7 linked regions of the Homo sapiens genome follow. The protein of the gene in region 1 interacts with the protein of each later gene in a pairwise test. Each region holds a gene or a part of one and is shown in the gene's direction. Other genes may lie near its edges.

The links.
Region 2: the proteins of RBFOX1 (region 1) and TOLLIP interact in binary tests that used the Homo sapiens proteins (3 or more experiments, as listed by UniProt).
Region 3: the proteins of RBFOX1 (region 1) and P4HA3 interact in binary tests that used the Homo sapiens proteins (3 or more experiments, as listed by UniProt).
Region 4: the proteins of RBFOX1 (region 1) and LMNA interact in binary tests that used the Homo sapiens proteins (3 or more experiments, as listed by UniProt).
Region 5: the proteins of RBFOX1 (region 1) and POGZ interact in binary tests that used the Homo sapiens proteins (3 or more experiments, as listed by UniProt).
Region 6: the proteins of RBFOX1 (region 1) and AGR2 interact in binary tests that used the Homo sapiens proteins (3 or more experiments, as listed by UniProt).
Region 7: the proteins of RBFOX1 (region 1) and RBPMS interact in binary tests that used the Homo sapiens proteins (3 or more experiments, as listed by UniProt).

What each region holds. Positions count from the first base shown.
Region 1 is NC_000016.10:6,017,702-6,021,823, forward strand, and holds the start of RBFOX1 (RNA binding protein fox-1 homolog 1), read left to right. Parts: upstream 1-1,322; 5' UTR 1,323-2,197; coding exon of another isoform or gene 2,198-2,200; 5' UTR 2,201-2,291; intron 2,292-4,122. UniProt on the Homo sapiens protein: RNA-binding protein that regulates alternative splicing events by binding to 5'-UGCAUGU-3' elements. Regulates alternative splicing of tissue-specific exons and of differentially spliced exons during erythropoiesis.
Region 2 is NC_000011.10:1,289,133-1,292,632, reverse strand, and holds part of TOLLIP (toll-interacting protein), read left to right. Parts: intron 1-2,223; coding exon 2,224-2,406; intron 2,407-3,313; exon of another isoform or gene 3,314-3,500. UniProt on the Homo sapiens protein: Component of the signaling pathway of IL-1 and Toll-like receptors. Inhibits cell activation by microbial products. Recruits IRAK1 to the IL-1 receptor complex. Inhibits IRAK1 phosphorylation and kinase activity.
Region 3 is NC_000011.10:74,284,141-74,287,640, reverse strand, and holds part of P4HA3 (prolyl 4-hydroxylase subunit alpha-3 isoform 1 precursor), read left to right. Parts: intron 1-1,249; coding exon 1,250-1,413; intron 1,414-1,655; coding exon 1,656-1,832; intron 1,833-3,500. UniProt on the Homo sapiens protein: Catalyzes the post-translational formation of 4-hydroxyproline in -Xaa-Pro-Gly- sequences in collagens and other proteins.
Region 4 is NC_000001.11:156,117,711-156,121,210, forward strand, and holds part of LMNA (lamin), read left to right. Parts: intron 1-3,500.
Region 5 is NC_000001.11:151,452,995-151,456,494, reverse strand, and holds part of POGZ (pogo transposable element with ZNF domain), read left to right. Parts: intron 1-1,592; exon of another isoform or gene 1,593-2,468; intron 2,469-3,500. UniProt on the Homo sapiens protein: Plays a role in mitotic cell cycle progression and is involved in kinetochore assembly and mitotic sister chromatid cohesion.
Region 6 is NC_000007.14:16,802,200-16,806,329, reverse strand, and holds the start of AGR2 (anterior gradient protein 2 homolog precursor), read left to right. Parts: upstream 1-1,330; 5' UTR 1,331-1,395; intron 1,396-4,130. UniProt on the Homo sapiens protein: Required for MUC2 post-transcriptional synthesis and secretion. May play a role in the production of mucus by intestinal cells. Proto-oncogene that may play a role in cell migration, cell differentiation and cell growth. Promotes cell adhesion.
Region 7 is NC_000008.11:30,569,541-30,572,756, forward strand, and holds the end of RBPMS (RNA-binding protein with multiple splicing), read left to right. Parts: intron 1-1,096; coding exon of another isoform or gene 1,097-1,190; 3' UTR 1,191-2,716; downstream 2,717-3,216.

The sequences.
Region 1 (4,122 bases):
ATAGGCAGAAGTTCCCTTTCTTTTATTCTGAGGTTGAAAGAAACCGCAGCCCGATAGGATTGCAAGAGGAACCCTTAAGGAATCTGCTCCTTGATGGGCGCTAGGAAATACACGTACATCTAGTACAAAGGAATGCACATCACATGGCCCCCTGTTTTGGAAAGCTTACAGCATTTCTTATAAGAGGATCCATGGTATAAGTGCAAACACAGTCACATCACAGGATGGGAAAATGAACAGGCGCCTCAGATCAAGTGCTCAAGGCTGGAATCTGGCCTTGTCCAATGCCACCTGCCCTTCAGAAGGCAGGGTGGTGCCACATAAAATGAGGTAGACTGCCTGGGGAGTCCTGGTTCCTTGCCAGCTATGTGACCTTGAACAAATTACAACTCACTGAACCTCAGACTGACTTTATTGTACAACAAAACCCCCTGGAATATTTGTGGAAAAAAGAGGAAGGGAGAAAGGAAGGAAGGGAGGAAAGGAGGAAGGAAGAAAGGGAGGGAGGAAGGAAGGGAGGGAGGGAAAGGAAAAGGTAGGGGAAGAGCAGAGTTTCTCACTCCAGTCCAGAGTGGGACCCAGGAAGGGAGAAATATTGCTTTAATCTCTCTAAGCATCTGTGAAATGGATAAACCTCCAGTATCTACTTCCAGTTGTTGAAAAGACTCCATGTAAAGTGCTTAAAACAGCATCTGGTGGAAAGTAAATGCTTATTAAGTGCTAGTGTGTATTAAGGCGTCATGGGGCTTCTGGCTGTAAGACATCTGCTAGGAGGACAATCCCTAGACCCCTTCAGCGTCCATTGCGGGAGTAGGTGGCCAGGAAGGGGGCAGGACAGGAGAGGCCCAGCTGTGCGGGGTGGGGGCGTCCCAGGCCAGCCGCACCCACCCCAGCCCTGCATCCCATCCAGCCTGGAGAACTTTTTGAATCTTGGATAGGGCTCGATCTCTGCCTGGCCGGAAGATTTGAAGACTTGCCAGAAAACTTCCTCAGAGAAGAAATGGACTGGGGCAAGAAGCTGCCTCCACTTGGCGTCTCTAGTGGGGGATTTGTCTACTTTGATTGGGGTTGGGAGGAGGGCGCTGGTGCTCAATGAGTGAGCCCACCTGGGGACTACCAGGACGAGGACGGGCGCAGGTGAAAGTCCTGGGCTCATTGCCCCAGCATCCAACTTTCACCCTCTGTCCCCTTTAGGCCAGGAGACCAGGGTACCGGGTCGCGTGTCCGCCGCCGCCGCCCGCTGGAATCCAGGGCTGCACGCGTGACCGCGGCGGCGGCGGCGCTGGCGAGGGGAAGGGGGAGGGGGCGCTCCCTCGCGCACCAGATTATTTTTGGCTCCGCAGCCGGGGCTGCTCGCTGCTTGTCGCGCGCTCACACACACACAGACACACACGCACACACACACATGCACACATTTTCTCGCGCTCTCTCCGGCTCTCCTTTGTTTATTTTCTAATCTATATTTTTACTGGAAGATTTCCTCTTTATTCTCTCCCGCCCTCCTACAAGCGCTCTTGCTGGCCGTCTGGGTGCACACACCGCTCCCTCGATCACCCCAGCCCCCTTCCTGGTCTCCCGAGCGCGGGGTTTGAAGGTCACCTCCTTTCCAGTCCCCGTGCGAGCCGCGCTGCCGCCGCCTCCTCCAGCCAGAGTCGGTGGGACTGGCTGCGCTGCCCTGAAGTGGTTCTCCAAGCAGCGCGGAGGGTGGCGGACGGCGGACGGAGCCCAGGGGCCGCGTCGGGTGGGGAAACCCGAACTCGCGGAGGGGAATCCCTCCCCCTCCGCCCCAGCCCCCCAGCAGCACCCGCGGTGGGGCGGGGGCGCTCTGCCAGCCCCGGGAACAGCAGAGGCGGCGGCACTGGCTGGACCCACGCGCGCGCCTCCGGGGCTGAAGAAGGAAGGAGTGAGCCGAGCCGAGCACCCCACATCTGGAGGGGACAGCCAGCCGTGGGCCCCGCCCCGGCGTCCGGAGCAGGAGAACTCCGAGCTTCTTGCCCAGGCAGAGAGAGCAGGAGCGGACCGCGCGCCCGGGATTGAGAGTCCTTGCGCTCCAGACCCCCACCCAGTGGCCGCCAGGGTCCCCGCCTGTCCGGACCCTCGCCGCGCCCAGGCAGGCGCGCCAGGGCGGGGCTGACCTGCCCGCGAAGTTGCGGACAGTGCGTGAGAAACCAGCACCCCCTTCCGCCGCCTCCAGCTTATGGTGAGTGTGGCTGGGGGTGCAGAGAGCGCACGGGAATTCGGGGGTCTGGGGCCGAGAACGTGACCGCAGCCGGGCTCGCCGGGAGTTCTAGGTAAGTCCAGGCGGAGTCATTGCCTCTGCACCCACCCTGACCTGGTGGGTCAGGTCCAGAAGGTCTCATGGAGGGAAGCGCTAGGTCCCCGAGAACTGGCCTCCTCCTAGCGCCAGTCTGGGCGCTCTGGACGGGAACTTTTTCAGGGTGTGTGGAAAGATCTCGAGGCGTGTCCCCCCCTACCCCCAGGAGGCCGAGACCCTGAGCCCCCTTGTGCGTCGCTTCCAGAAGCACGTCCTTCCTTGCCCCAGAGCGCCCCTCCGAAGCATCCAGGCTACCTCGTCCGTCCTCCTGGGAGCGAGTCCTAGGTGCCAGGAGCAGCGGGAGCCTGCCTGCGCACTTTGATTAGTCTCCCTGGCCGGCTGCAAGCGTGCACTCAGCGCGCCCCCGGACCGCTGCCTCCGCCCGCAGGGTGTGCAGGAGGAGGCATCTTAGTGACCCGGGAGGGTGTTTAGGTGCCCCGAACCCCTTGTGGGAGGAGGGGAAGAGAAGGCTCACTTATGTGGAGAAAGCGCCGCTGTGTTTACTGGCACTGGAATCGATGCCCCGCGGTGCCACCTCGACCCCAGGGGAGGGGGCCAGCCGGGAAACCTGCGAATGGGAAACTCCTACTGTGCCCCTGGTTCCTGGGAGCCTTAGAGAACCTTCACCCCAGAGAAGGAAACACAGGGGTAGCAGATCTTAGCCCTGTGTTGTTGTGCAGGCCAGGGGGGGGCTTGTCAGCTCCAATCAACCAATTGTCCAGCTATGGAAGCGAGGGCGGGGCTAGTGGGGCGCCGCTCCCATCTCCCCACCGCCCAGGAGGCCACTTGGCTGTGAGCTCCTGGAGCCTCCCTGGCGCCAGCTGCGGGGACCAGGTGTCACGCGGAGCCCGGAAGCTGTCCACTCAGCAAGGGAGGGGAAGACCCCGATCTAACCTTGTCCTGGAGCCCCCAGCTCCATTCCTTGCTGCCAGGGAATGGTCAGGGGGCTGGGAGAGCTCATCGCTCCTGTGTGGGCCAGAGCTGGGGTGCACCTGCTGGCACTGGAACATCTGGGGTGCGGCTACTGAAGAGCTTGGAAATCCTGGTCAGGCAGTCCGGGCAATTGGCACCCCAAAGGCGGATCTTTTCAGTTGAACTTGAAAAGAAGTGGGGGAGTGTGGTGAAATAGCTTTGTTGAGTTGAAACATCATGTCTCCTAACTTGGGTTTTCCTTTATTAGAATAATGATTGTTTATTTTTATTTTTAAACTCCGTTGTGCAGAGAGGCCTGGCCTTGACAGCCCAAGTTTAGGACATGCCCCAGCCTGCCATCCCTTCCCTGCCCCCTGTCCTAGTTCATCTCCCCTCCATTTATCATTTTATCTTTGTTACAAAAGAGAGAAAAAAAAGATGAGAGGGCCTGGATTCTTTCAATTTTTAAGTGACCACAGAGGCCCCGGCTGGAGCTACTGGCAGATTTATTTTTAGCTAAGATCTTTTATGTTCAGAAGCAAAGGACCTGGGGCCTGTGAAGGGTAAAGGTGGTGCTGGCAGTGGCTGTGCTGGTAAAAAGTGGGGCTGACTCAAAACCTGTGTCCTCTTTGAGCTCGTCAGGGAGGCCCTCCGTTTGGAAGAATCCCCTGGGCTTTCCTTAAGTTAGCTTATGGTTGCCTCGGGTTAGGAAGAAAAGTCATCATTCCTCGCGGTAGTGGAAGTGACACCTTAGGGGTCCAGAGAGTGGAGCTTTATGGCTCAGAAGAGCACAGGGCTTCTGGATCCGTTATCTGCCAGCTGTGTGACCTTGGGCAAGTTGCTTTACCTCTCTGAGCTTCGGGTTGTCACCTGTAAAATCAGAGTTTCAGTCGTAG
Region 2 (3,500 bases), on another chromosome or scaffold:
TGGTTGTGTGCAGTCATAGTGAATGGGCAGATGCTTCCATAAACATCGAGGAGGTCACTTCAGCAGAGCAGTTGATGTCACAGGACGCTCATCCTAGAGTTTTCTAGCCACAGTGCAGAGGGCAGTGGGAGGAGATGGGAATGAGAGGATGACGCTGAGTGTGGCAGAAGCAGGCAGGATCCAATGTGAGCAGGCATCGGTGACAGGCACGGGCATGCTGGCAGGGGAGTCCCATGTGCCACCCAGAAAGCTGGCTTTGCTCAAAGCCTTTAAAGTTATTAATAAAAATAAGTCATAGCAGCTAGGCAGAGACAGCACAGTTACCTGAAAGCTTTGGAAAATCATGCTGGTCTCAGACTTTCCTGCTACATACTCTCCAGAAAATAGGGCAGTTGCTAAGGAGTTTACAGGGGCAGAGTTTGGAGTGTAAGAGCTGATCTAGCAGATGTGTGGGTGTGCAGCAGAAGGGAATTGGAAGCTGCTAGAGGCTGAGCATGCCTGTCGCCCAGGAGCTTCCGGAAAACTGTCACTCCATAGCATTCCGGAGTACGCTGTGGCCACCCAAGAAACACGCTAAAATTAAGGACCCAAGAATGGGGCAGTTTTGACCTAAAAGGACCGGCCACAGCTTTGATTAGAAGTGAAAGGAGGGAACTTGTATGTGGACAAGAATAGAAAACAGAGGACCTGGCAGTCCAGAGATGTGGGCACAGGAGGGGAGAGTTCAGCTGTGCGGCGAGGGTTGGCGTGGACGGGACAGCCGTGCCCTCGGGGGTCGGTGAGGACGGGGCGGCCGTGCCCTCAGAGGTGGGTCGGTGAGGACGGGGCGGCCGTGCCCTCAGAGGTGGGTCGGTGAGGACGGGGCGGCCGTGCCCTCAGAGGTGGGTCGGTGAGGACGGGGCGGCCGTGCCCTCAGAGGGGGGTCAGCGAGGACGGGGCGGCCGTGCCCTCAGCGGGGGGTCAGCGAGGACGGGGCGGCCGTGCCCTCAGAGGGGTGCGGTGAGAACAGGGCGGCGGTGCCCTCAGAGAGGGTTCAGTGAGGACAGGGTGGCCGTGCCCTCAGAGGGGCGTCAGTGAGGATGGGGTGGCCGTGCCTTCGGGGGGTGGGTGGTGAGGACAGGGTGGCAGTACTCTCAGAGGGGGGTTGGTGTGGACAGGTTGGCCGTTCCCTCAGAGGGGGTCGGGGGGCAGTGTCTGGACTCTGTTCCACTGGGAAGGAGGAACTGGCGGGCTCCATGTGGGTGGGAGGGCCGGGATGGCTCCCGGGGTCTCTATCACCAGCTCCTGGGGGTGAGCCGGGTTGGCTGCAGGAGAGCGGGTGGCAGTGGTACAGGGAGGCCGTCTGCATTCCAGGCAGGACGCTTTACAGGCAGCCGGAGCTGCAGGGCTGAACCCAACCCAGCTTACGAGGGCTTTTCTCCTGGTTTTTTCTTGTAAAGGTTTTACAGTTTTAGGTTTTATATTTGAACCTGCCATCCATGTTGAGTTTGTTTGCTGAACAATCATCTTACTTGCCACGGTCTTCTGTCTTATTCTGAACACACGTTCACTCCCACCCCGAGGACCTCAAATGTCCCTGCCCAGCTGAGCACCTGGCCTGAAGTCGAATCTCATGGTCTACATGTGATGTGGCTCCTTGTGATTGGGAGACACAAGAAAGACAAGTTCCAGTCCCCAAAACCCCACGTACTCCGATAGCACAGGCAGGGCTGCTGCCTTCACGAGGGAGGAAAGCAGCCACGTGGCGTCTGAATTATGTGCAGCAGGTGTCCTCACTCTCACCTAGAGCGAGGATGCACCTCTCCCGGGTCATCATGCTCCGGGGGCAGGTTCACACTCCATGTCATGCTCTGGCTCTCAGCTCTGTCCCGGGACCTCCTCCTCTTTCCCTCCTCAGCCACTTCTGAGGAGGGCATTAGAGAGTGCGCCCTTCATGGTGGGTGAGTGGCGGCCTCAGCTGTGTCTGTGAGCGTCGTAGGTTTCTGCTGTCAAGGACGAGCCACGTGCTTTGTCTCAGAACTGCACGATCCATCTGTGGCTCACTCTTCTTGCTCCTGGCCTCCTGGGAAGCAGGTCACAGCCGTGTTCAGGCGACTCTGAGTGGCTGTAGTCTATGTGTTAGGAAAAGGCCTCGTGGAAGGGTTCAGGGAGGCAGACGGCCTAGAGAACCCACCCTCTCCTGATGGTTGGCACCTCCTTTTCCTGACATTGGCTTCATTCCAGGCAAAGTTGGCCAAGAATTACGGCATGACCCGCATGGACCCCTACTGCCGACTGCGCCTGGGCTACGCGGTGTACGAGACGCCCACGGCACACAATGGCGCCAAGAATCCCCGCTGGAATAAGGTCATCCACTGCACGGTGCCCCCAGGCGTGGACTCTTTCTATCTCGAGATCTTCGATGAGGTGAGAGGGACGTGCCAGCTATTATGGAGGCTGCACGTGGCTGAGCGTGGCTGCCGTGGGGACACACCTGCCAACACAGCCACGTTCCTGGCTGGCTTCGAGGCGTGGCTCCCCACCTGGTGTTTCATTGGGTGCATGACAGGGTCCTGCTCTCCCCAAGGAATGTGAAAAAGGGATTGTTTCCAGCTCCTTGAACATACTTACATTTGGAAACATCCCCAGTGACAAGCATGACCCAGGGATACAGCGTGCACGTGTCCCCTCCGCTGGGCGCACAGGGTCTGGCCGCTCACCAGCAGGTGGGATTTCCAGGGACAGAGCGTGCACGTGTCCCCTCCGCTGGGCACTGATCTGGCCGCTCACCAGCAGGTGGGATTTCCAGGGACAGAGCATGCATGTGTCCCCCGCCACTGGGCACTCGTCTGGCCGCTCACCAGCAGGTGGGATTTCCAGGGACAGAGCATGCATGTGTCCGCCCCGCTGGGCGCACAGGGTCTTGCCGCACACCAGCAGGTGGGATTTCCAGGGACAGAGTGTGCACGTGTCCACTGGGCACTCGTCTGGCCGCTCACCAGCAGGTGGGATTTCCAGGGACAGAGCGTGCATGTGTCCGCCCCGCTGGGCGCACAGGGTCCGGCCGCTCACCAGCAGGTGGGATTTCCAGAGAGTGCGGCTGCCTACTGGGTGGGAAAGCTGTTCTTGGTGGTGCGAATGGTCGTGACCCTTGAGGGTCCTGAGTCCCGTCCGTGGCTGCACCTGCAGCGCTTCTGAGGCAGAGTCAGAAGGTCAGAGGGGATGTGGCGAGGCTGCTGCTCAGTGTGGTCCTGGCACCTCGCACCTGTGGCATTGTGAGGCTAGAGACTGGGTGGGGGCCGGGGAGCAGTGTGGGGCAGCCAGGCCAGCAGACGGCCAGCCCTCCCTGCCTGGGCCCTGCCTTTTCCTCCCGGCTTTTCTCTCCCCGTCCCTACCTGCTTTCCCCTCCCTGGCCCTCAGAAGAGTAGAGAGCGCATGGGAAGTGCAGAGTCAGCTGTGGGAGGCAGACCCCGTGTCCTTTCCAGTCTGCACCCCGGCTGCTCTGGGGCTTGACAGGTGGC
Region 3 (3,500 bases), on another chromosome or scaffold:
TGAATCCATTTAGTAACATTATTCCCTTCTGATAATTAGCAAACAATAGGATAAGGAAGTAGCTGTGTATCTACAAACACATGAGTAATTAGTGGTACAAACAAAATTATAATCCAACCCTTCTTTATTTATTTGCACTTGATCTATTAAAATCTTTGCTATCCACTCAAATTTTGTGCTTTTATAGGTGGATAATAGAACATGGCAAGTTGAGATTCCCAGTTTTATTTCCGGCTTTGCAATATTTTCACTGGGGTTTGGGCTTATAATTTCCATTCTCCAAAACTTCACTTCTTCTCTTGTTAAAACAGAATGGTAATTTCTGCCCCTTCCTTTCCTCCTTTGCCAGGGTGATGGTTGTGGTTAGAAGCACACTGGGCTCCTCAGAGAAAGATGCTTTGGGAGCATTAGAACAATTCAGCATCTCCTTCTGAGATGCATTGAGAGTCATGCAAAGAGGCCAGCAGGCCACGGGTAGCTCTGCCAATGCATGGGGCATCTTGCAGCCAAAGTGGGTACAAACAGGTGGGCACAAACAAGACACAAGATTTATTGGGTTTCCCAAGGGCCCTGTGGGAATCCAGTCTAGAGCCAAAGTCTAGAGTCCCTCTGCGCCATACTTCTTTGCTCTGGGTCTAGGCCAGTTAGGAGATTTGAAAGATCTAGTGGAGCCAAGAATGAATTAGCTTCCAATTCTCTGGGGAAGAATAGGTTGGGTCCTTTTGCAATAGGCTTTGGCTTTCTGGACTTCTCTTTCATTGCACTTATCATATTTTGTTGTAAGTGATAATTTAATGTCCTTTTTCTCCATTAGACTCTAAACTCTGAGAGGTCAACCTGTAGCACAGTATCTGGTACATAGTAGATGTTCACTGAAGATTTACTGAATGGATGGGTGAAAGAATGAATGAATGAATGAGGCTTCATCTTCGCCATATATACCATCACAGTATCCCAGAGCAGCCATCTTCATGATCCCTTGGCCTAAGAGTTTTAAGTTCCACTTTGCTTCCCAAAACCCTTTGCACCTTCAGATCTACCAGGATCAAGTCAGTCTTTTAAAAAAATACCAGGTAGTCTTCTGGGAGTGAGGGCCTTGCATCCTCCTGTGTGTTGACATGAGGAGTTATTCAGGAGATCCACTTGCCCATCCTGTGCAGCAGTGAAGCTGGAGGAAACCTTGGTGGCACTCCCTGGGGCCAGTATTTGTTAATCCCTATTTTATATTCCCTGCTCTGATTTCTTCCAGGCCCAGATAATAAGAGGATGGCCAGGAATGTCTTGAAATATGAAAGGCTCTTGGCAGAGAGCCCCAACCACGTGGTAGCTGAGGCTGTCATCCAGAGGCCCAATATACCCCACCTGCAGACCAGAGACACCTACGAGGGGCTATGTCAGACCCTGGGTTCCCAGGTAGGATTCCTCAGGGAAAGAGAAAGGGGGAGAGGCCTGGCTAGAGTTTGAGAAGCTAGAATTGGGATAACATGAGGGGATAGAGCTGATGCATTAAAAACAATAAAGCTCACTTGGGCAGCATCAGAGTGACCACATTCTGTATCTCTTGCATTCCAATTTTTTTATGCCATAGTTCCCCTAAGTTGAGTTTTGCTCCTAGACCCTTCTTCTCTTATGCTCATCCTATTCTTTCCTTCCAGCCCACTCTCTACCAGATCCCTAGCCTCTACTGTTCCTATGAGACCAATTCCAACGCCTACCTGCTGCTCCAGCCCATCCGGAAGGAGGTCATCCACCTGGAGCCCTACATTGCTCTCTACCATGACTTCGTCAGTGACTCAGAGGCTCAGAAAATTAGAGAACTTGCAGAACCATGGGTGAGTGTCCTGAGAACCCGCCAAGAATTTCTCTTTCATCTTCACATGCCTGGAGTTCAGGAGTGTAAGAATAGGCAACCTGAACAACTAGACACCTCAAAGAGCCAAGGAGTTCAGAATGCCAACCATTCCATAAAACTAGTCCATGGTGGAAAAAAATCACAATAGTGCTTGCCTCTAGAGGGAAAGGATTAACTGGATGATGTACAAGAGGATTCTCTGGGGTATTGAAAATGTGCTCTCAATATCTTGTTAGGGACGTGGTACATGTGGCTGTATGCATTTGTCAAAACTCACCAAATGGTCCACTTGAGACCTGTGTATATCATTGTATGTAAGTTTAACCTAAAAAAAGACAAATAAAAAAGAACACTTCAAAAGTGTCAACCATTCTATGTAATTGGTAGAGGTGGGGAAAAGGGTGAAATGACAGCGGCAAGGAGTAAAATCCTAGCACAAATTTACAGAGTTAGAGTAGAAAGCTAAACTTCATTATTTTGTTAAAAAGGAAACCGAGGCCCAGAGAGGGGAAGGGACTTGTTAAGCTCATACATGTAGCTAGAGCCACAGCTAGAACTTAGAGGTACAGTAGTCCCCCTTATTTGCAATTTTACTTTCTGTGGTTTCAGTTATTCTCAGTGTAGTACAATAAGATATTTTGAGAGAGAGAGGTCATTTTCCCATAATTTTATTACAGTATATTATTATTATTATATTTTATTGTTAATCTCTGTGCCTCATTTATGAATTATAAATTATAACATATAATTATAAATTAAACTTTGTAATTCAGTTACAATCATTATTATAATTTCGTTATAAAAAGAACCAAAGGAGGCCAGAATGATCAGGGCTAGCGGGCCCAACGAAGGTGCAGGGCTTCAACTGAGTCTCCAAAGATGGGCAGAATGTGGCGAGAAGTGTTGAGTGAGTGTGCTTTGGGAAAGGGACAGTGACTAGGAAGCAGATATTCAACACAAGCCACTGAGGCATCTGTCTTCAGTTTCCATGGGGGAGCCACTACCATGTGAGCCCAGGGCTGATTCCTGGGAGAGCCACAAACCAGACAGGCATCAGCAGCCCCAGAGAGATGCTTCTAGGGGAAGGAAGTGTGCCAAGGTCTGTGCATGCCAAATGGACGACACGGCCATGAATGACTAAATAGACATCTCTGGGTGGGTCACTTCTCCCATTACCATGGCAACAGGGCTGTTTTAAGGAAAAATTTAGTTATAATGTAATTATGATTATAATTAAATTACAATCATGATTAAATTAAATTACAATCATGATTAGATTAAATTTTGATTGAAGCCATCCCACTGTCTTCACTTGGAGACCCAGCCTGACAGAGCAGCCTCTGTATGGGACATTGCCAGTCTCATGGAAGAGGAAAAAGACAAATGGCAAACATGAGCTGGTTCATAAAGCTTCTGCATGGAAGTGCCAGATGTTACTTCCACCCATGTTTCACTGGTCAGAGCAAAGCATGTGGGCACTACTGCAGTTAACAGCAAGGTTCTAATTCTTCCACAGGGAAAGCACTGCAAGTCACCAAGCCAAGCTGGATGTCAATGGGAAGAGGACATTTAATCCTCCCCCTAGGAAGTGTGCTAAATATTAACAAGAAAAAATGCACCTCTATAAGCATGTTGCCTCTTTAAAGAT
Region 4 (3,500 bases), on another chromosome or scaffold:
TTGTAGAGATGGGGTTTTGCCATGTTGCCCACAGTCTTGAACTCCTGGGTTCATTCTGCTGAAAGAGACCACACCTGTCCTTTTCTTTATTTTTATTATATTTTTCAGAGACAGGGCCTTGCCCTGTTGCTCAGGCTAGAGTGCAATGGTACAATCATAACTTGCTGCAGCCTGGAACTCCTCCTGGGCTCAAGCGATCCTACCGTCTCACCTTCCGGAATAGCTGAGACTAAGGGCAGGCACCACCACGCTTGGCTAATTTTTTTTTTTTTTTTTTTTTTTTTGCTTTTTGTTTGTAAAGATGGAAACTTGCTATGTTGCTCAGCTGGTTCCGAAGTTTTGGCCTCAAGCAATCCTCCTGCCTCGGCCTCCGGAAGCACTGGGATTACAGGCATAAGCCACCAGGCCTGACGCCAGGCCTGTCTTTTTTCTACTAGTGATATGAACAATTTAGTTAGCAAGACAGATAGGAAGCAAGGAAGGGGAGACCCAGAGAATTCGTTGCATTCTAAACTAGTCCACTCATCTACCAAAGCCCTGTGAAGGACATTTTTAGCAGTTTTAGCAGTTTTCTGGTCAAAACTTTGATCGAGAAACAGATTGAGTGGATTCGATATTCTCTTGCTCACCCAGCCACGCCAGTTTGTCTCCTCTGCCTCCTAGTGCAGCTGTCCAGGCCTGGGACACCAGGCGGGTATGTGCGCATGTGGGGCAGGGCGGAGGTGGTGTGTGTACTTGTTATATTTAGCCACCTCCCTCTGTTCTCCCCCACTGATCCTGGCTGGAAAGGCTGGGCTTCCGGAAAAGAGAGGTGGATTTGCACACCTGGATCCCAAGCTGATAGAAAGTGGGGTGAAGACAAAGGGGACTCAGACTGGGGTGTCTGTCCTCTTCTATGCCCACAGTAGGAGGAGCCAGGATTGGTTACTCCCTGCTGGGTCTGCTGTGCTCAGAGTGAGGTAGAGAAGTGGGTAGAGTAAAGAATTTGGGAGAGGAAAAAAGGCATTTTCCCAACCCCTCCCACCAAAGCCTAGAGAGAAGGTGTTGTCTGGTTTAATGTTTAATTAGAGCTCAGAGTTCAGGGCCAGATTTGGAGTTGGGATGGAAAGTTGTTTTTAAGACCCTGTAGCAATTTTTGACCCAGCCTGGGTACCTCAACCACACTCAGGAGTTTGGGGGACCTTCTGTTGGGCTGGATTATAGGCTCCAAGAAGAAACCCCTTTCGCCAATACTCTCTCTCTCTTCTTTTTTTGAGACAGGGTCTTGTTCTGTTGCCCAGGCTGGGGTGCAGTGGCATGATCACAGCTCACTGCAACGTCAGCCTCACAGGCTCTGGTGATTCTCCCACCTCAGCCTCCTGAGTAGCTGGGATTACAAGTGTGTGCCACCATGCCCAGCTAATTTTTTTTTTCTTTTTTTTTTTTTGAGACGGAGTCTTGTTCTGTTGCCAGGCTGGAGTGCAGTGGTGCGATCTCGGCTCATTGCAACCTCCACCTCCCAGGTTCAAGCGATTCTCCTGCCTCAGCCTCCCGAGTAGCTGGGACTACAGGCACATGCCATCACGCCCAGTTAATTTTTGTATTTTTAGTAGAGTTGGGGTTTCACCATGTTGGCCAGGATGGTCTTGATCTCTTGACCTCGTGATCCGTCCACCTTGGCCTCCCAAAGTGCTGGGATTACAGGTGTGAGCCACCGTACCCGGCCACTAATTTTTATATATTTTGTAGAGATGGGGTTTCACCGTGTTGCCCAAGCTGGTCTCGAACTCCTAGGCTCAAGTAATCCACCTGCCTTGGCCTTGGCCTCCCAAAGTGCTGGGATGTATAGGCATGAGCTACCGCACCTGGTACCCCCTGCCCCTTCTCTGTCTCTTTCTAGTCTGTAGCCCAAGGGATTTGGATACCCAAGTGCAGGCAGAATGGGAAGGTTGTAAGCACCAGGGAAGCCTGTCTGGAGTCCAGGCTTGCAGCTGGGCCCCACCCCAGGCAAGGCAGCTGGGTGGATGACTCAGATGCTGCCCCCCTCCCTCCCACCCTGGTGGCTTTACAGAAGACAGCAGGAGACAGGGTGGAGACAGCAGTTGTCTTAAAGGGAGGAGTGGTGGTCTGAATGTCTACCTCTTCTGCCCCCCTCCCCATTGCATCCTGGAGTCCCTTGCCTGGCTCCTTCCTGAGACCCTCTGGTGGTGTCTGGACACATAGCTCTCTCTGGACAGGTAACATGCACAAGTAATTAGAATCCAGAGTTGAGTTCAGAGTTATGGATTGGGCTGCAGGATAGTGCCAGGGTCTGTGCCTTCCCATGTGAAACTGATGGAGGAAGGCTGAGTCAGAAGTGGGGAGATCCGAGGCCCACAAAGCAGAAGCGCTACTTCCACTCCAAAAAGGCCCTGGTGCTTGACAACTTCCTGGATTGCCCACTGTTGCAGCCCCAGTGTGGACAGGCAGGGAGATGCAGGCTCCAGTTCATGTAGGCTCTGATCAAGACAAGAACAGCAAAGGCCACAGAGGCACAGATGCTTGTCCCATGTCACACAATAAAGGGGTCAGCACTTGATCACAGGCCTTATGACTTCCAGCTGGGTGTGCTCTTACCATTAAGCCTCACTTCTCTAGCTTGGGGGACAGGTTGGAGGGAGGATCTAGAGGGTGAGGTAAGGTGAAGTCAGGTAGCTGAGGCTCACTTCTGCAGCCTGGAAACTCTGCTCTGGGGCCAGTGACACCTTAGTGCTCTATGGCCATACTTCGTGGCTCATGCCTGTAATCCCAGTGCTTTGGGAGGCTAAGGCAGGAGGATCACTTGAGGCCAGGAGTTTGAGACCAGTCTGGGCAACATAGCAAGACCCCCTTCTGTACAAAAAAATTAGCCGGTCAACACCTGTAGTCCAGCTGCTTGGGAAGCTGAGGCGGGAGGATCACCTGAAGCCAGGAGTTTGAGGCTATTGTGAGCTATGACTGCACTACTGCACTCTAGCCTGGGAGAGAGAAAGACCCTGTCTCTGAAAAAGAAAAAAACAAAACAAAACTCTGCTGTCCTGCAGGGCCTGTTAGCATATGATCGATAGCCTTTGCTCCAGCCTATACCTGGACCCAGGACCCCTGCCAGCCCCTCAATCGTGAGACGGTCAGAGCTCTGGGAGGCTGGTGATTCTTGTCTTGAGACTATCTTGAGACTTGTCATGGGAATTGTCCACCCGGATTGAAAGGAAGCTGTGCCTTTTGGCAGACCCATTAGGTTAATGGGGTTGGAGACCTTTGAGGATGCATGGGCCCTGGGCTTTATCTGAGGGTATCTCCTGGTGTTACCTCTCCAACCCTCCACCACCAAATCCATTCTTTTTTTTTTTTTTTTTTTTTTTTTGACAGTCTCGCTCCCTGGCCCAGGCTGGAGTGCAGTGGCATGATCTTGGCTTACTGCAATCTCCACCTCCCAGGCTCAAGTGATCCTCCCACCTCAGCCTCCCAAGAAGCTGGGACTATAGGCACGTGCCACATGCTCG
Region 5 (3,500 bases), on another chromosome or scaffold:
TTTACTTGAAAGAACGACTAGCAGACTATGGTTTTTCACACTTAGTATTTGGCAGATATTTCTTGAAAATGAAGTGAGCTTGTCACTTTTAGGAAAACAACTGACAGTATTTATTACCAGTGATAAAATTTGGGTGAAAATTAGAATTTTTAAAAAGTTGACAGCTGGAGTTTGACAGCTTCCTAGTACTTAAAAGACTTTCCTTATGATATCAGTGGTTAAGGACTGCAATATTTTAAAATGTTGTTTAATGAAATATGTTATTTGGAAGATGGGCATAACTCAGTAAATCTAGGCTTTGCAAATGACCAATGCATGATGTTGCAAAATCAAGCAAAGGCAAAAGATCCTTTGAAAATTCCAGACATAGCAATGGATTTTAACAGTAAAAAAGTGGATTGATGTGGTTTCAGATTCCAAAATGTTAACTGTCCTTTAAGAAACTACTATTTGGCCTAGCGTGGTGGCTCACTCCTGTAATCCCAGCACTTTGGGAGGCCAAGGTGGAAGGATTGTGTGAGCCCAGGAGTTGGAGTTGAGCCTGGTCAGCATAGTGAGACCCTGTCTCTATTTATTAAAAAAAAAAAAAAAAAAAAAAAAGAAAGAAACTACCGTTTGTTGAGTTTTAGTATTTACCAAACACAGTTATCTGAAAAGGTTATTAAAATACTTCTCCCTTTTCCGACTAGATTTTCATTATATACTTAACCAAAGCTACATATAGCAACAGACTGAATGCAGAAGTAACTGTGAGAATCCAACCATCTTTTATCAAGTTAGACATAAAAGAGATTTGCAAAATGCAAAACAACGTTACTTTTCTCACTTTTTGGAGGGAAAGTATTTTTTGTTGAAATGTTATTTATGTTAACTTATAATGGGCTTGTCTTAAAATACATTGATAAATACTACATTTTAAAAATTTGTGGTAAATGTGGAAAGATAAAATTCACATAAACAAAAGATCTTTGGCGTCTTCAATAATTTTAAGAGTCAAAAAAATGAGAATCATTCAGTCAGTCCTATGTTTCTGCTCTTTACATCATTCAAATCTAACTCCCTTGGGGAACTTGGGAGAATTTATAAATAGTTGAAGTTGATGGAAGAGGCAGTGACCTGGGGAAGAATTCTAAAGCAAAAAAAGCTTGCTTTGAATCCTAACTGGGATATTTACTAACTGTAACCTTGAGGAAGTTACTTCGTCTCTCTAAACCACTGTTTTGACCTTATCTGTAAAATAAAAACTTTAGAGCTGGTTGATTACAAATCCTAGAGCTGGTTAATGCCTTTGCCATAATATCAATATGGTAACATTTTGATAGATTCTTTGGTATTCTTGTTTGTGATATTAAGCCATATTCACAAAAACTTGTCTTTTTTTTTTTTTTGAGATGGAGTCTCGCTCTATTGCCCAGGCTGGAGCGTAATGGCGCAATCTCGGCTCACTGCACCCTCCGCCTCCTGGGTTCAAGCGATTCTCCTCCTTCAGCTTCCTCAGTAGCTGGGATTACAGGCACGCGCCACCACACCTGGGTAATTTTTGTATTTTTCTAGAGATGGGGTTTCACCATATTGATCAGGCTGGTCTCAAACTCCTGACCTCTTGATCGACCCGCCTTGGCCTCCCAAAGTGCTGGGATTACAGGCGTGAGCCACCACGCCCAACTGAAAAACGTATTTTTATATGTAACCAAGGGGAGGAGAGCAGAAAAGAGACACTAACCTATTGCTAGGTGTTAGCAGAGTTAAAAGAAATTGAAAGCATAGAAATGGAATTTAGGCAACACACAGCTGTCATTGAAGAAAAGTTTTCCATCATAGTATAGATATTTTTCTTGGGAAAGGGACTCCTGAATATTGAACCCCTTTAAAGAAGAGAACTTGTTGCTTACTTGTTTTAGTAAAGAGCACAGAACTAAATATTTGGGTGTTTCTTGATACAGGATTGGCTACCAGACAAGAGGAAAGTATTTTGAGTTTGGAAATTTTAGGTTATTAAGACTACTTAAAACCCTTATGATTCTTACATATGAGGTACTATAACAGATGTTGTGAGGGACAAAATGGGCTGTGCAAAAGACTGGATAAATAAAAGCTTATTACATGTTTAACTATAGTTTTATACACAGATTAAGTATTCAGCCCTATAGGTTTTCTGGTATTAGTCCTTTTTAGAGCCAAAAATTGAGGTAACTTGAAAACATAATTACCAGTTATGTTGAGGATTATCATTGTTTATTTTTCACCCTGGAACAAGAAAGTGGTATTCTTAAAATGTTTGTTTTCTGTAAAATATTTTTCCTGTTCCAAATGTTCTTTTTATGTTGATTTTTGGGCAGGTATGTACTGGCAGTAAGTTGAAAACGTTAGATACCAAATTCTTCATTTCTGAATTCTTCATTCTTCATTTCTGGACTTTACAGCTATGAAAGAACAAGACAAAGGAATTCAGAGCTTTCAAGAACCAAGTATGTCAGGATAGTTGTGGAAAACAGATCTTTTTCTCATTTTCTTTGAGATGAAGATAGGCAACATTTGCTGCCCATTAAATACCTTAAAAGTATACAGGTGTATCTGCAGGATTCTTTTTGCTGCTTTTAAATAGTATATTGTTTTAAAAGGTCTGTTTTTATCTTGCCTTTACAATTATATAGACTTTTATTGACTAGCTGATCATATAGGGCCTTAGTATAGACTACCATATTCGCCAGCATTTAAGAAATAGTCCCCTTCCCTCCAGGAGAGTATTTATCTGGTACTCCCATATTATGGATTGAAGGATGAGACAAGAGACTGAGTATTGCTAATAGTTCTGTGTGAGCCTGCAGTGTTAAGTAAAACCTATTGAGTGCACAAAAAAATCATGTTACAATTACTACAAAATAGAGAAACCACCTAGGTTACCAAGATGTCAAATAATGGATTAATGGAAGAAAGTAATGTACCTCCTTGGTAGCCTACATAATCCACCTTAATTTGTTATTTCTTATTTAACTATTTTGCTATGTCTTAAGAAATGTATATTAAGTGAAAATGGATGCATAAAAATAAAAAAAGAGAAATGTATATATACAAGCTACATGAAAATTGGTCCTGGGAATAAATCAAGAAATTCAACCAACAAGGCTACCAGTTATTTAGTAAATACCAAAGAGATAGGTGGAATGTAGCAGTACAGAATATCACAGCTAAGATATGAGTAGGTAGTTCCACTCCCTCCTACCCCACCTCAGTTTTTATTAAGAAAATTTCACGCATGCGAAAAGGGAGAAAGAGGCTGGGCGCAGTGGCTCACACCTGTAACCGAAGCACTTTGGGAGGCCAAGATGGGCGGATCACAAGGTCAGGAGTTCAAGACCAGCCTGACCAACATGGTGAAACCTGTCTCTACTAAAAATACAAAAATTAGCTGGGCGTTGTGGCGCATGCATGTAATCCCAGCTACTCAGGAGGCTGAGGCAGGAAAATCACTTGAACCTGGGAGGTGGAGGTTGCAGTGA
Region 6 (4,130 bases), on another chromosome or scaffold:
CCAAATCCCATCCACTTGTTACTTTCAGTGGATAAGGGACTGAAGGACTTTGGTCCCAACTCTGCCCTAAACTAGTTGTGAGACCTTCAAAAAGTTATGAATTTTTTGCCATCTTCATTTATTCATCTGTAAAATGAAAGACTGGAATTGAATATTACAAGGGTCTATCTAAGGGCCTGCTAGTTTTAAGAATTTTGCTCAAATCATCGTTTTCAAACTCCTGAAGAAATTACTTCTATAAATTCATTAGAATTGAAAGGAAATTCAGTATTTGGAGAATCACGATTTTGCCCACAGAATTCAAGGATTTATTGGAAAAATATACATACTTGCAAATGTTTTTGAAATATTATGACCTTAACTCATTTTAAAAAGTCATTTATATAGGGCTTGCATCCCATTCATTAACTTTCTGTTGTTAACATTTTCTTCATTCTGAGCTTTTAAAGACTGCACACAACTTCATGAACAAAATACAGGATTAAAATTTTCTGACAGAAAATTTAAATTCCAGTTTTAAAATCTTCAGGGAGTAATTAAATGGTCTTGAGGGGAAAAAAAACTTGGTTGCAGACCTTAGTTTTTAGGTCTGAGAAAATGGAGTAAATGGCTTCCTGCTTGCGTGGCAGGAAAGTTTGCCTTTAAATAAGAGATTATCTGTGAAATACCTTTGAACTCTGTGGAGGGAAGTTGCTGCATACATTCAATGGCAAGGCATTTATTACAAGCTCACGATATTAGGCTGTTTTTTTTTTTTTTTTTTGCCAATACTTCCTCAGTTTTGAAAAATTACGTGGGTTACTTGATTTGTATTTTTTTTCATACCTGTAGAAGTTAGGGTGCATTGTTTTGACAGGAGCAGGGAAGTATTGTAGAAAATAATTTTTATCATAATGGAGTATGGCAGGTTATATGACTGCGAGGATCAGAATTGTGAATCATCTCTTGTGTGTCTTCAAGTAAATAAAGGCAATCTGCCCACGGAGCAGAAAAAAAATCTACAAACTACAAACTCTGTCCAATCATGTAAAGACAAATCAGCCTTCAGGCAAATCAAATGTCTTCATTCAAAGTCTACCTGGATTTGGCACTCTGCCCATCGTTTCAAAACCTCTTAACAATACGTTTCACAAATAGTTAAAAACATGCATACTGAAAAGCATACTTTTGCAATGTTATTTTTAAAAACAAGGAACTCTTTAACCCAGGGAAGATAATCACTTGGGGAAAGGAAGGTTCGTTTCTGAGTTAGCAACAAGTAAATGCAGCACTAGTGGGTGGGATTGAGGTATGCCCTGGTGCATAAATAGAGACTCAGCTGTGCTGGCACACTCAGAAGCTTGGACCGCATCCTAGCCGCCGACTCACACAAGGCAGGTGGGTGAGGAAATCCAGGTAAGGCTCCTGACAGCAGCTTTAGAAGGGTACTTGCTGGAGTGAATTCGGGCCTCTGATTGCTATATAAAGTTGTAGGCAATCAAGCAACAGAGAACTGCAAGTTTCCAAAGGCAATGAAGTAGGATACGGAAGGGAAATCATGGAATTTCCACAAAAGTCTTACTGGGGCCTTTCTTTGGCTAGAGCTGGCACAGTGTGACGTTCCCGAGTTAGTTCAGAGAAATGCTTTCTCTTTTGCGAAACAAAATTTCCAAGAGTAGGTGAATCCTAGGATTTTTCAAGCCTGGGACAGGGTCCAGGGATTTTCGTCTCAGTCACCATCTAAAGCTTTCTTTCCCACGGGCTAAAGCAAAGCCCCATAGGCTTCTCCACTATGACACCTCAGCTCGGATTGCCCGCTTGGAATATATTATTGCAAATCAGAAAACAGTTTTCTTTCTCTTTTTGCTGCAAAGACATTCTTGTTGCCTCTGCAATCTTTAAATTCATGGGATAGGCTATTAGAGGAGAGAGCTGGTTGCTTTCCTGAAGCATCTACAAATAGGGACACTAAAATGTCTTGCAAGTTCATTATTTGCTAAAGACAAGAAGACAGGGATACGGTGATGAGTAAAAAGTGCTGGCTTCACATAATGTGTGTGTGTGTGTGTGTGTGTGTGTGTGTACCTATGTCTGTGTGTGTCTCCAAATTATCAATATTTTCCATGGAATTGTGTTTTGAGGTGGTTTATGCAGGAAATTTGCAGAGCAGAATCTATTCACATTACGAAAACTCAGTGGAGTGAATCTCAGAAAGTCACCCCACAGCAGGATGTTTGTACAGCAGGAGTTATGTTAGCCTTCCTTGAGTCATCCTGCCGTAAAACACAAGCAATATATCAATAGTTCCAACCTGTGATCTTTGGAGATACTGCAAGGTCCTAATAGCTACTTGGAAAACAAGAACTGTAAATGGGCTAAGTAAATAAAAATGCCTTACCATCAATTTACTATTTTTTAGAATATATATAGATGCTGTTATAAATAAAAGATAAAATCAAATGTTTGTTGATAGATTCAAAGAAATTATTTGCCATATGTTTCTGAACCAGCCAGTATTCCAAATGTATAATTATTCTCATGTAAAAGTTCTTGATTTTTTTAACATTACAAAGAAGTCTTTATACAAAGAGGGCTGAGAATTGTTGACTTACAGTGAACACTTAGGTTGTTTTTGCAAAACTCTAGAAGACAAAAGTTATTGGCATTTCCACATCTTTGTAGGTATAGAAAATGAACAAAGTATATCCCTGATTTTTGCTTACATCTTTTCTGAGTAAGACATTTTGTGCTTACATACTATGGATTAGTTAATCATTGGTCAGTTAAATACAAAACATCATTTCGATCTGGTAGCTTAGCAACACTTAAAAAAAAATCAGCTAATGCTTAGCAAAGGTTTCCACTCAAGATATTAGATTATGAAAAACTTCCTGCTTAACAATAGTAATTCCTTGCAGAGTTTATTTGACTTCATTCAAAACCATTCACCAATACTAGAGTTAGGTGCCGGGGTTTCATATTTCCTTTTTAGCACTTTTAGTGTTTGGTTTTATCAGAATCCCAAATCTCCAGCCTTCCATGTTACGGCCCCGTGGACAACCTTAGTGACTTGCTAGAGCAACTCACTTTGCTCCCTCCCTCCCTCCTCACTCACAAAACTTATCTTGCCATGTACTTTCCTTTTCATAGGCTTTAGTTTTTCCTGGGAATCAACTGTGGCATACCAGAAAGAAAAAGTAATTTAACTAAGATATCAGCTAGGCGTGGTGGCTCACTCCTGTAATCCCAGCACTTTCGGAGGCCAAGGCAGGAGGATCACTTGAGGTCAGGAGTTTGAGACCAGCCTGGGCAGCATGACAAAACTCCATCTCTACTAAAAAATACAAAAGCATAGCCAAGTATGCTGGCACGTGCCTGTAGCCCCAGCTCCTTGGGAGGCTGAGGAGGGAGGATCACTTGAACCCAGGAGGTGGAGGTTGCAGTGAGCCACGATTGTGCCACTGTACTCCAGCCTGGGCAACACAGTGAGCCCTTGTCTCCAAAAAAAGTAAATGTAAATTTTCTTAGCTACTAGAGTATGTATATCTATTTTCTCAAAATATATCTCTATTTATCTATTTCTATATAGATATATATATCTATATAGATAACTCTATATCTATAGAGATCTATATCTTTTTGTCTTTATCTATGTGGATCAATAGACAGCTATCCATACTATATACAAACAGTCCCAACTTACAGAAGTTTGACTTAATTTTTTGACTTTATGATGGTGCAAAAGCAATACACATTCAGTAGAAACTGTATTTCAAGTATCCATATAACCATTCTGGTTTTTACTTCCAATAGAGTATTCATAAAAATTACTTGAGATATTTAACACTTTACTATAAAATGGGCTTTGTGTTGGATGGCTTTTCCCAACTTTAGGCTAATGTGAGTGTTCTGAGCACATTTACGGTAGGTTCAGCTGTGGTGTTCAGTGGGTTAGGTGTATTACGGTAGTTCCCCCATTATCTGTGGGGGTTATGGTCCATGACCCTCAGTGGATGCCTGAAACCGCACATTAGTACCAAACACTACATATGCTATGTTTTTTCCTATGCATACATATCTATGATAAAGTTGAAATTATAAATTAAGCACAATAAGAGATTAATAAGAGCTAATAATAAAACAGAACAATT
Region 7 (3,216 bases), on another chromosome or scaffold:
CAGGCTTTTGAAGGCCTTGAAGGATGTGTTAGGGATTTGGAAGCCACTGGAAAGATGAGCAGGGGTGGAGAGTGATTTAGGAATGTTGTTGTCATGCTGCCCAAAGCAAAGTAGATGAAGATTCGAGGTAGAAGCACACTTCTGCACAGGTGGCCCTAAGATGGTGATGGTGGAGTGGAAGGAGCAGATGAGCCAAGAGGACAGGAAATGAGGTCGGTGTAAAGGGCAGGGACAGGCCAGGGGTGCACAGGGATGAGTCTGGATTTGGCTGCCTTGAGGGCTGTCTACAGTAAGCATACTTAAGCGGATGTGCTAGAACTAATGTCATTATTTATTTGCCACAACCTAAAGAGACAGGCAAGTATTAGTCGCCCGTCACAGAGAAGGTCCAGGGTGTCCAGGGCCCACTGTGGAAAGCTCTGCCTGGCTTGCCCCTGCTCCGCCGGCCGTTACCCGCTACCCACTCATACTGTCGTCCAAAAACTGGGCAGTGAAAAGTCACAGGTCAGATACAAATTGGACAGATTTGGTGTGAACATTTACAAGCTCATCCCGTACGCTATGTTTCAGTGGTCACCTAAATATTCTCATTTCAGGACTTTTTAAAACACATTTTCCCAAATCTAACTTGGGACAAAATCTAACTTGGGACATTTAAATAGGTTATCAATAATTATCTGTTTATGGCCTCTTTCGGCACACAAATAAGCATCTCCCTGTACAAAATTCTAGTGTATGCTGAGCTGATTGATTGCCTTCTGCATACACCTTTTCTACAACTTCTCAAACGTGTGTGACATGCTGGTAAGATGGCAGGAAAAGGAGTGACTGAATAATACAATATAGCTGAGATGTGTTTCAAGAAAACCTCTGGGCCAGGGTAGGGGTTTGTGAGCGGGAGCCAAGGACTTGCCCCATGTTTCTAATCAAGGTGAGACCACTGACACATGTGGTCAGCAAATATGTTCTATACACACATCCGCACACTGTCATCTAACCCATCCGTTCTCCCATCCACAGCATCTCCAGGACAAAGCCATCGCAACTAGGGAGGGGTTGACACCTGCTCTCCTAACATGTTTTCTTTCTGTTTCAGGCTTGAAAAACCCTTGCCCAGTTTTGATCCCTTCAAGACTTTGTCACAGCCTCTATCACACATCTGTTTTTCTCGAAGAAAAAAATATAATTAATAAAAATGTTTTACTCTTTTACACTGTATAATTGTAAGAAATAGCGTATTATTTGTGAATGCATGGTCTGAAATTTCTGTACAGTTTGGAGATATTTTCAAACGAAACGTAAGAGAAGTCAACAATAAAACCAAGAAAAGTGAGTATTTTTATACCAAACATTTTAAGTATGCTGGGATGGACGATCTTACACTGGTTTGGATCACAGTTTTTGTTCTTGACTTTTGAATGCTTGTAATTAAAAATATCTATTTTTTTCCTCTGAAGTAAGTTGCATGTTTGAGGCATGTTTCCAAATATTATCAAAATATCCTGAATTGTATTGTGAATATATAGAAATCTGTGCCTGGCCGGAGTCCAGGGTAAATTAGTAGCATGGTGTTAGATGTTAGAAACAGAACTGTTATTTGCAGTGTTAGGTCTAGGATCCCAGTTCTAGTAGGACAGCCCTGCAAGACAATCAACCAGAAGCCTCCAGGAGCTTCTACCTATGGCTTATTCACAACTGGGCAAGAAAACATCATTGGTAAGAACTGCTGAGTGTGCCCTTAGAAAGCCCTAGTAGCTCCAGCTGTGACTATATCAACTGTGTGCCAAGTGTGACTTTGTACAGTTTTATGTTTCCACTCTCCTGTATGTGTAGCCACTCGATGCCTAACCTACCTTCCACAAGCCAGCCCCGCATCCCTGCTCCCGCAGTGTAAGTGCAGAGCCTGCCTCACTGGTAAGGGAAAACCTTGGCTTGGGAGGCCAGCCCTGGCCCTTGAAGGGGTTGGCTGTGCCCAGCCCACCTGGCTGCAGTGGGCAGCTCATGTCTGTATCTCCAAAGTGATGTTTGTTTGCAAAACACCGGCTGAACTGAGCTGGTGTTGCCAACTCTTGGCAGCACTGGGCCAAACCGACCACATACCATGAGCTCCCAAATGGCGTGTGCTCACTGTGAGACGTCCTGCCACACCCCACAGGAGACGGAGGCAGTGGGCATTTGGAACCAATTCTATTCAGACTTCGTCAAAGCCAAAGTCAGTCTGGTGTTGTCAGTTGACACATCTCCAGAGTTCATGACAGCTCAACCTCTCCCCTTGTACAGAAGCCATTTTTGTAAAACCACACTGACCTAAATTCAGCTGCCAAACACAGTCTTTCCTATTGATCCGCTCGGCTTATGTTGAAAATTTCAATGTCATGATTACCTGGTTGGTTTGGGTTTTTGTTTTGTTATTTTCCATTAGAAATATAAAGATGTCAAGAAGCTTTTAAAGGTCAACACAAAAAACCAAGGCCAGGAGTGAGGGGCTCTTTCTTACCGTAAATAAGGGGAAAAGGCAGTTAGCTCAAGGACTTGTGACGGATCCACTTTGGTGTTCAAGGACCTGCTTATGCCCTCAGTGCCAATCGGCTCTTGGTGAGATGACTGTACTCCTAAGGAAAATAGCCACTTCTGCAGTCTATTATGCTTTTATAACTGTTTAAAGGTACTTTTCTATTGTCATTTTTAAAAAATAAAGTGCTTATTCCAGCTGTCACACCATTGCTTGACAAATTCTTTTTTAGCAAGACCAACTACATGTATCCCACACTGCAGACAAGACGCCAGCAGATTTCATTCCCATTGTCAGGCTTCGGCAGAGCTAAGCAAGCATTGGCCATTGAGCTTAGGCACAAAGAGATTAAAGGAGGAAGCAGATACCGGGGAAAGCCAGAGAGTAAGTCTGCAAACGCACAACCACAGTGGCTGGTGACCCACAATGACACCAGAGGCAGAGGGACCTCAAGGGAGGCCCCTCATCTACCTCAGCCTACAAAGCTTGACTCAGGATTATCTGAATTATATTAAAATGTCACTTGGGTTTTCTGCTGACTTAAATATATCTTACGCCAGGCATGGTGGCTCACACCTGTAATCCCAACACTGGGAAACTGAGGCAGGAGGCTTGCTTGATCCCAGGAGTTTGAGACCAGCCTGGACAACACAGCAAGACCCTCAATTTTAACATTAGCCAGGAGTACTAGCACCTGTGGTCCT